3 linked regions of the Homo sapiens genome follow. The protein of the gene in region 3 purifies or fractionates together with the protein of the main gene of each other region. This does not show direct contact. Each region holds a gene or a part of one and is shown on either strand. Other genes may lie near its edges.

Region 1 (3,659 bases), on a different chromosome or scaffold from region 3:
ACCTCCAAATGTTAGGTGAGTCAAATCAATTTCTAATTTAAAAAAAAAAAAAGCTCAGACTTAGGAGAGAGCCCTTATACATTTTTATGATAGAAATTTTATGTTAGATAAATGTTATGATTCAAAACAAACTTAAAAATTACTGAAACATTTTGGCATTTGGGCTCTAAACCCAGAAAGTAAAAGTAGACTTAAAAAAATCAGAAGAATGTATGTACGCTTATATGTGAAATTAGGCACGTTAGTATTAGACCATGCCAAGGTTTTTAACACCTGCTTCTAATAACTTGAAAGGTCAAATTGGCATTTTTTTAAATGAACTTTTTCTTTTTTGCTTGGGAATACTACCTGATGTGTATTTTTAAATCAACTTTATCTTTGAACATTTTTGATTTGTAGGAAAGTTGCAGTGGAGAGTTCCTGCATTATCCTTCAGCTGGTTTCCCCTAATTTTTTTTTTTTTTTTTTTTTTTTTTATACAGAGTTTCGCTCTGTTGCTAGGCTGGAGTACGGTGGCATGATCTCGGCTCATGGGTTCAAGTGATTCTCCTGCCTCAGCCTCCCGATAGCTGGGACTACAGGTGTGCACCACCACGCCCAGCTAATTTTTGTATTTTTAGTAGAGGCGGGGTTTCACAATGTTGGCCAGGATGGTCTTGACCTCTTGACCTTGTGATCTGCCCACCTTGGCCTCCCAAAGTGCTGGGATTACAGGCCTGAGCCACTGTGCCCAGCCTTCCCCTGGTGTTAATGTCTTACATGACATGGTACTTTTATCAAAACTAAGGTTAACATTGCTACATCATATAAATTCCAGACTTTATTCAGGTTTTACCAGTTTTTCCGCTAATGTTCTTTTTCTGTTTTAGGATCCAATCCAGGATACCCATTGCATTTAGCCTAATGTATATTTTACATATGATAGTTCAACTTGCATTTTCCTTTTTCAGTTCTTGATGAAGCAGATAGAATCTTGGATATGGGCTTTGCTGATACCATGAATGCTGTTATTGAAAATCTCCCCAAGAAACGTCAGACTTTACTTTTCTCAGCAACACAAACTAAATCTGTAAAGGACCTTGCACGCTTGAGTTTGAAAAACCCTGAGTATGTCTGGGTTCATGAAAAAGCAAAATATAGGTATGTACTCTTTGAGTCAATCAAGATAAATGTTTTTTACTTTTTTAGTTTAGGGATTTGGTATTTTAAATATCTGTTTTCTGGGAATTAAGACATTCTATGAGTTATTGGTTATGCAAAGCATAGTAAATATACCAGTTAAAATTACCCAAATTCTGCATATATCTTTAAATGTCAGGGTACTTGAATGTAGCATTTCCCAAAATGTGGTCTGGGAGGGGAACAAATGTTTTTCCATAGATGTTAAGAGGTATTTTACCATTTGCCAACACTACCTCTTAATAAACGAAGGGAGAAGGGATGAAATAGCAAATGGTGAGTCAAAGTGAAACAGTTTTATTTCTATTTCTCACAACCTTTAATATTTTCAGGGACATTGTGATTGTTGAAAGCAGTGGGAGGGAGGTGGATGTAGCTTGCTACATTTACCAAATTTTTTGGGTACGGAATCATCCTTTTTAGCAGGATTATGCAGTACTAATGTGTTATGGAACACATTTTATGAAGTGCATTAATATTTAGCAAAATACCTTTCAGTCTAAAATTCTAGCAACTATTGTTTTGTCTTGGTCTCATTAAAAACTAGAGCTTAAAGTATATGTGTTACAGTAAAAGTATGTATGTTTGTGATATGCAAGTAGTTGGGGAAATTTTTATTTATCTCTTTTTTTCGAGACAGGGTCTTGCTCTGTCACCCAGGCTGGAGTGCAGTTGTGTGAATATAGCTCACTACAGCCTTCAACTTCTGGGCTCAAACAATCCTCCTGCTTCAGCTTCCTGAGTAGCTGGGACAACCAGGGCATACCACCATGCGTGGCTAATTTTAAAATTTTTTGTAGAGTTGAAGACTTACTACATTGCCCAGGCTGGTTTCAAATTCCTGAGATCAAGCAATCCTCCCACTTTGGCCTCCCAAAGTGTTGAGATTACACTCAGGCATGAGCCACTGTGCCCAGCTGGGATATGTTTTAAGTTGTATTTTCATATGACAATTAGAAGCATATATATTTGGTATGAATCACTGCAGACTTCCAGGAGAAATGTTTTCCAGTAAATATAAAGTTGGATTTTTTGTTGAAGATAGCAATGTAAATTCAACTCTTCTATTATTTATATCTTAAAATTTTTATTTCTTCTTGCTCTGAAATGTTAGCCTAAAAAGAAATAGATTTGGAAAATGAATTGTGTTATCTGGAAATTCCTTAAATAGAGAAAATATGAGTATTCAGGCCCATCTTGACCTTGTATAATGTATGTCTAGGATTTAAAAAGCCTGAGACGAAGAGGCCAGATTCTTTGCTTCTGGGTGATCTTGGGGAATCTGAGTACTGGTATCTTTGACTTTCAAGAACTTGGGAATGGAATAGTAAGATATGTGAGGTATAGTTTTTTTCCCTTGGCTTACTTTCGAGTGGACATTGATCTCTTAAAGAGTTGAGATAGCTATGAAAATTTTTGTGACAATTAACAATTAACTTGAAAATGTAAAGACTGCTTGTCTAGGATTTTTCACTTTTCTCTTTTTTCTGTTTGCCTCCAGCCTATTTTTAATATTCATCAGACAGATTTTTTTAATCATTAGATGTCTCTAAGACCTTTCATAATTTATGCAAGTTAATTTGTACGTATTATTTCCTATCCCCAATTTCTGTAGGTAAGAGTTGGTTATTTTCTGTAAATTACAAAGTTTTAGAAAAAAACTACAAAGACTTTGATATTATTTCACAAATGATTTTTGAAACCCGGTCCCATCACTTATAAAAGTGTGGTGGACAAAATTTTCAGAAAAAAATTTTGGAAGGTAGACATGTATTGACATAATTTACAAAACCTCAGGTTATATGATAATGGCTGCAGTATTCTAATATTCCAAATTTATAGGAAACATAAAAAAGCAGATGCTCTTAGGAATTTCATCTAATGTCAATGTTAGCTTTTCCACTTTAGTAGCTTATCAATGTGGTTCATACACCAGGAGAGATAATAATCAAGAATATTTTAAGGTGTTAGAGAGTATCTACTCTCAAATTGTGAAGGACACAACAACTAAAGAAAAATTAGATCTTTCTGAAGTTGTAAGTCAGAGCATACTTAGAAAAAGTATACTAGTGTTTTCATTATGTGGTTATATATAGACAACTGGTATTTCTAATGATTTTATTTTTGAGAGAATATGCCTTTGGGCCATAGCAATTTGCTGTTTTTCAGTGACAAGTTGAATTCTATGGTGGATTATGAAAAATTTCAAATTTGAGATATGTCATGAGCTTATGTTATTAGGTATATACAAATTTAGAATTGCATTGTCAATTTGAAACATTAATCATTATGAAATGCTTCTTTTTTGCATGTATGTGCTTATTTTCTGTGGACAGTCTGTCTTTTTTGGTTTGGTTTTTTTGCCTTTTTCTTATTGGCTCGGAGGAGCCCTTTAGATAAATTAATTATTTATTTGTAATACGAGTAGCAAAACACTTCCCTACTCCCGGTGTTTTTTCATTTTATAAAATGTTTCTTTT
Region 2 (3,659 bases), on a different chromosome or scaffold from region 3:
CGGGAGGCTGAGGCAGGAGAATTGCTTGAACCTGGGAGGTGGAGGTTGCAATAAGCTGAGATTGCACCACTGCACTCCAGACTGGCTGACAGAGCGAGACTCTGTCTCAAAAGTAAAATAAAATAAATAGGGTAAGTAGGACTCCGTCTCAAAAATAAAATAAGAGGGTAAGTAGAGTTGAGTACTCATTCATTAATTTGTTCAGTTGCTTTGCCACTAGTATGTGGCAGGCAGAATATGAGTAAGGCGTCGTCACCCATCTCAGGGCTGTCGCTAGCTTATATGATGCCTTTATGCAAATTAGAAAAAGGCATGCTCTCTGGACACACAGAGCTCCCAGGGGTCACACTTTGGTGAAGAGATGGCGCCTTTGAAGCAACAGATTTTTTGCCCCTGAGCAGACACAGCCCCCTCCAGAGTGCATGGCTTGGTGAGTGTAGGATGGCCTTGATTTTAGCCCTTCTTGTCCTTTTATAAATGCCCCTGTGCGGATAACAGCCTGCTAAACTTTGTGCAGTGGCCCCTGTCTAAAGCAACATTGTCTAGTAGAAATACATAATTTTGGATTTTCTAGTAACCACATTAAAAAGTAAGATGAAACAGGTAAAATTATTTTAAATAATATATTTTATGTAACCCAATATATCAAAATTATTTCAATATGTAATCAATATAAAAGTCAATGTATATTTTACATCCCATTTTCTACTCATTTCATACTAATACTATTTTCATATTAATGTCAAGTTAGACAAAACGCATTTCAAGTGCTCCGTTACCACATGTGACTACTGGCTACCATATTGGACAATATAGATCTAAAGTAGAAGAAAGTCAGAACCATAATACAAAATGCAATAATAGTAAGTGCCGTAAAAGATGTTTAGCAGAAAGCCATGGAAATCTGGAGGAAGAAGTCACTCAAGATGTGGTAATCAGAAAAATTCATAGGGGACGCACTACTTTGGGGTGTGGAAAAATTTAAGTTTGAGGACCAGAGTGTGCTACATGGAAAGAACTTTTTGAGCAAAGATGTGATTGGGCATGTTCAGAAGAGGTCAGTAGTCCCGTTTGATTAGATAATAAGGTCTTGAAGGGCCAAAATGAGTAGCAGCGAGAAATGATTGTTTGGAACTAGGTGAGAGACAGCTGGCTCTAGTTTGCATTACGTGTTTACTAATTAAAATTTTTTGTCACCTCCAGCAGCAAGCAATTTTGAGTGTTGATGTTGCTGATAGTTGAAGATGTAACTGAAAACCAGTAGTAGTTCACATGAGCCAGACCTGTGATTACAGGATCCAAGGAGGGGTCTTGATAGGCCGAGAGGTCTTGATAGGCCAAGAGGTCTTGATAGCCCAAGAGTTCTTGATAGGCCAAGAGGTTTTGATAGGCCAAGAGGTCTTGATAAGCAGAGATCACACTGTGAGGGTAGAAGGTATCAGGCAGTGGAGTGAATTCTGGATAGCAAGGACTAGGGAGTCAGTGGTGGTATCCCATTTTACATTTGTAGTGGAACCAGGCAGCAGACCTCTTGAGGTGTGGGAAGAAAGGATAGGAATCCGGTTACTAAAATTGAAGAATAAGATTGGAGTGGGACCGGCAGCAAAGTTGATTTGACACTGAATTAGTGAGGTAAGTTAGTCTAGCATCCACTTCATTTGGGGCACTGAATTAATATAACATAGCTATATAATCCTTTAGATTGATTTTACAGACTTTTTTACATATCTTTTCTCATTTAATTTTCTTAGTTACCTTGAGCAATAAGACTGTATCAGCGAACAAGATTAAAGTGACTTATGTAAGGACATGCAGACCTGGAACTGCAACTCAAGTCTTCTGACTCCTTCTACCCCACCACATTGCTTGCAGTAATTTTGTTGGTTCCACAGTCTAGGAAAGGCATTACTCATAAATAAGGATTACACGGCTCCATATATAATCTTCTGTTCATTATCCATTCATCAGTTATTACAGCAATTACTGTGTGCAAGGGCCTTTTTAAGTGCTGTGAAGTAAAGGTGATGTGAGGACTTGCAGTGTGATATTTGTCATCATGAAATGTTCATGCCCAGCACTTGCACTCCTCAGAATCTATTTTACATAAATAATTGGATGTGTGCAAAGAATGTGCATTGCAGCATTATTTTTAAAATAAAACGGTAACTGGCTGGGCACAGTGGCTCACCTTTATAATCCCAGCACTTTGGGAGACCGAGGCGGGTGGATTGCTTGAGGTCAGGAGTTTGAGACCAGCCTAGCCAACATGGCAAAACCCGGTCTCTACTAAAAATACAAAAATTAGCTGGGCATAGTGGTGCACACCTGTAATCCCAGCTACTTGGGAGGCTGAGGCACGAGAATCACTTGAACCCAGGAGGTAGAGGTTGCAGTGAGCCAAGATCGTGCCACTGCACTCCAGCCTGGGCAACAGAGCAAGACCTTGTCTCAAAAAATGAAAATAGAAATTAAAATGGTAACAAATCATTAAGAGATTAATTAAATATATGCAAACATCTGTGATCTATGAAGTTTTAAAAATAGGTTCCAAAATAACGATATGACCAGTTATTTTAAACAAATTAGTATTTAAATTAAAGAAAAGAAATTTAGGGATATGGTTGTATACTAAAATAACCAGTTATCTTTGAATGAAAAATTACTGCTAGTCACCTTTGTTTTATTTATTAACCATATTTTCCTAACTTTTTTTGGTTTGTAATGATCATTCATTATGTTTATAATTGGGGGAAAATGGTAAAGCAGTTTTTTTGGTTTTTTTTTGTTTTTTGTTTGAAGTAGCTGGATAAGTAGTAATGTTTACAGTCACTACTAGAGCAATACTGTCTAGGAATAGAGACATTTATATTTGTGTAACCCCACATTATCTTGCACAAGGCTGTGTACATTGTGGGCTCTAAGCAGATACTTTTTGGGGTTTTTTATTTTTATTTTTGGAGACAGGGTCTCGCTCTGCTGCCCAGGCTGGAGTGCAGTGGTGCAATCACAGCTCACTGCAGCCGCAACTTCCTGGGCCCAGGTGATTCTCCCACCTCAGCCTTCCGAGTCACTGGGACCACAGGTGCACCCCACCATGCCTAGCTAATTTTTGTATTTTTGTAGAGACAAAGAGTTTTGCCATGTTGCCCAGGCTTGTCTCAAACTCCTGGGCTCAAGATCCTCCCATCTTGGCCTCCTAATATGATGGGATTACAGGCGTGAGCAGCTGTGCTCGGCTGCAGATACTTATTGAATGAATAAATACTCTGAATGCAGTTGATATTGTTAAAAACATTGAAATGGAAGACCTCTTTAAGTCTCTTATGCAACACTTTATTATTATATAACCCAAAGTGTGGTATGTGTACCATTGTCATAAGTGAGAAGATTTTTGATGATACTCAAACTTCTAAAATATTAATAGTTATGTACTGTGTCAACATCTTAGAAAACAATGTAATTACCCTATCACTTCTGTGACTTTAGGAATATTGTTTAGAGCAAAACTAACTTTTAAAAAATTCAATTTAATAAAAAAATGATATTCAAAAATCATGAAAATGGTATAATGACTGACAGTTGAGAAATATTGCAATACTAGATAGACTGGGTCTGTAAGATGTTATTTCTAAGCTTGTTGCTTAAAAGTAAATTCTGCT
Region 3 (3,144 bases):
TGGAAGAACAACTCTGGATCTCTCATCCCTACTTAACTGGAAAACTCTGGTATTATCTGTTTTTATATATTGAGCTTTTGTCCTAAGATATTTAGGCCAAATATTCTATGGGTAAATACAAGTATGAAAATCATTGTAATAAGAGTCACTGAAGGAGTTTTAAGCACAGGAGTTACAGCAGATTTGTGCTTACAGAAAGATAACTAAAAACAGCATTCAAAATATATTCCCTTCTTGTCTTTATCATTCACTTATGTTCTTATTGTCCATTTTTATTTAAAAAAAATTTAAATCTTTGTTTTTCTCTCATATGCTTGTAGCTCAGTTTGAATTTGACAATGCCCAAGCACGTCGGAAGAGCCTGCTTCTCAAATTCTTACCTGTTTTTGTCCTGGGTACCATGCTTTTTTGTTTTGTTTTGTTTCGTTGAGATGGAGTCTCCCTCTGTCGCCCCGGCTGGAGTGCAGTGGCACGATCCTGGCTCACTGCGGCCTCTGCCTCCTGGGTTCAAGTGATTCTCCTGCCTCAGCCTTCCGAGTAGCTGGGATTACAGGCGCCCGCCACCACTCCTGGCTAATTTTGTATTTTTAGTAAAGACGAGGTTTTACCATGTTAGCCAGGCTGGTCTCGAACTCCTGACCTCAGGTGATCCACCCACCTCGGCATCCCAAAGTGCTGGGATTACAGGTGTGAGCCACCACACCAGGCCTTGGGTACCATGCCTTGAACCATTTCAGTGCCTTTTGGAGATGGATGAGTTGCCAGCATCCTTCTTAGATCCCTATATATTTGTTTATTTATTGAACAAATACATATTAACTTATCTTTTTGACCAAAGACTTTTACTAGGTGCTTTATAGGTTACAAAGTTCTTTCACATTATCTTATTTGGGCCTCATAATTATTCTTTGTGGCAGGGAGGAAATGTACATATTTTACTGATAAGACTGAGGTTGGCCTGGTGCAGTGGGTCACGGCTGTAATCCCAGTGCTTTGGGAGGCTGAGGCAGGTGGATCACGAGGTCAGGAGTTCGAGACCAGCCTGGCCAACATGGCGAAACCCCGTCTCTTAAATCTTAAACAAAGATTTAAATTTTTTTTAAATAAAAATGGACAGTAAGAACATAAGTGAATGATAAAGACAAGAAGGGAATATATTTTGAATGCTGTTTTTAGTTATCTTTCTGTAAGCACAAATCTGCTATAACTCCTGTGCTTAAAACTCCTTCAGTGACTCTTATTAACAATGATTTTCATACTTGTATTTACCCATAGAATATTTGGCTTAAATACAAAAAATTAGCCGGGCGTGGTGGGAGGCACCTGTAGTCCCAGCTACTTGGGATGCTGAGGCAGAAGAATCACTTGAACCCAGGAGGTGGAGGTTGCAGTGAGCCGAGACAGTGCCACTGCACTCCAGCCTGGGCGACAGAGTGAGACTCCATCTCAAAAAAAAAAAAAAAAAAAAGACTGAGGTCACAAGGTTAAGTGACTTACTCAATATTTGACTACCAAACACCTAATTCAGAACTTAAACTCAGTTTGTGGACTCTAAATCCTTTGCTCTCCTTCTATACCACAGTAGTGTTGATCTCAAGAGCTTAGCATGTTGGCTTAAAGACATCCAGGGATGAGGTGTTGGAGTCAGATTGAGTTTGAATCTTAGCTCTACTTGTATTACTGTGTTATCTTGGCCAAGTATTTAACCTCTCTGAAATAGGTTTTCTCAGGGCTGTGAAGTTTGGAAGATACATAAAAGCCCAAAGAAAAAAATGAAAAATCAGTATAATCACCACTCTGAGATAACCACTGTGGTAATATTTTTGAGATTTTTAAAATTATAAGAATAATATATGCAACACTTTTTCACACTCTAAAGTACACCATTTCTTCCTTTTCCTCATCTCACCCTAGGGGTAGCAGTTACTTGTGTGTTGTCTTGTAGACATTTTTCTATGTGTATAAAATGTATTCATCATATCCCCCCCTACACACACACACTTTCACAATTGAAGTCATATTACACTTTCTACAACTTGTGGTGACATGGATTTAATTCGATGTCATTATATATAAATCATTGTTTTTACCTGTATCATATAATTCCATTGTATGGGGGGAAATTGGTAATTACTTTGATTAAATTAATTTAAAACTTGGCAGTCTGTGGAGACATTTTTGATTGTTAGAGCTTGGAGGGGCCATCCGTGGGAAGAGGCCAAGGATGCTGCTGGAAACCTACAATGCCCAGGACAGCCCTCAACAAAAAATGTTCTGGCTTCAAATGTCAATAGCTCTGAGATTGAGAAACCCTGTTATAGTCTTTTTTGGGGGGGTAGTTTATTGATTTTCCTCTTCTCATTGTCTTCTATTAATTTTCTGAGCGTTGTTTCTCTTGTATTAGCATAACTTTCTCATTGGCCTTCTTAGGCATAGCTACTTCTTGAGACTATTCCAGATACCTAATATGAACTGATTGGGAAAATCTTGAACTTGGAAAAACATCCCGTTTACCCTAGGCTTTCATCTGGTTCTTTGGCTAAAACCAAATCTGTTTTTCTTTCTGTTTTGTTCAACTCAGGGTCTCAGCTTCTTGGAAGTGAAAGACCAGCTGCTGCTCATGTACCTTATGGATTTGACCCACCTCATTCTGGACAAAGCCTCAGGAGGATCTCTTCAGGGACATGATGCAGTTTTGAGACTGGTGGAGATTCGCACGGTATGAAGCATTTGGCTTCTTGGAGTTTTAGGTTTCTAAATTTTGAGCTCCAAGGGTATCACACAGTAGCTCTCATTTAAGTGAGTCTTCTCATGTTTAAGGAAACCAAATGAGAAAAGGTATTTTTCTATTCATTTGCTCTACTTTGTACATATTTTAGGTGCCTTATGTGGCACCTTAATATAGGGACTCTGGTGTGTGCTTCATTTTGGGAAGGAAATATAATCCTGATTAACTACCATGTTGTAGGTTTTGGAAAAGCTTCGTCCCTTGGACCAAAAGCTGAAGTATCAAATTGACAAGCTGATCAAGACTGCAGTGACAGGCAGCCTTAGTAAGTGAGGAGACCATCATGAAGTTGTGGGGACCATCAGAAAGTTCCAAATTTTGTAAAATTCATTGGGTTATTTATTTCAGGTGAGAAT

What was found.
Region 1: the proteins of NGDN (region 3) and DDX10 purify together in Homo sapiens (affinity purification with mass spectrometry; one large-scale study listed by BioGRID and IntAct). This does not show direct contact.
Region 2: the proteins of NGDN (region 3) and ESF1 purify together in Homo sapiens (affinity purification with mass spectrometry; one large-scale study listed by BioGRID and IntAct). This does not show direct contact.

What each region holds. Positions count from the first base shown.
Region 1 is NC_000011.10:108,678,421-108,682,079, forward strand, and holds part of DDX10 (probable ATP-dependent RNA helicase DDX10), read left to right. Parts: coding exon 1-15; intron 16-950; coding exon 951-1,140; intron 1,141-3,659. UniProt on the Homo sapiens protein: Putative ATP-dependent RNA helicase that plays various role in innate immunity or inflammation. Plays a role in the enhancement of AIM2-induced inflammasome activation by interacting with AIM2 and stabilizing its protein level.
Region 2 is NC_000020.11:13,778,344-13,782,002, reverse strand, and holds part of ESF1 (ESF1 homolog), read left to right. Parts: intron 1-3,659. UniProt on the Homo sapiens protein: May constitute a novel regulatory system for basal transcription. Negatively regulates ABT1.
Region 3 is NC_000014.9:23,472,590-23,475,733, forward strand, and holds part of NGDN (neuroguidin), read left to right. Parts: intron 1-2,581; coding exon 2,582-2,719; intron 2,720-2,968; coding exon 2,969-3,053; intron 3,054-3,136; coding exon 3,137-3,144. UniProt on the Homo sapiens protein: Part of the small subunit (SSU) processome, first precursor of the small eukaryotic ribosomal subunit.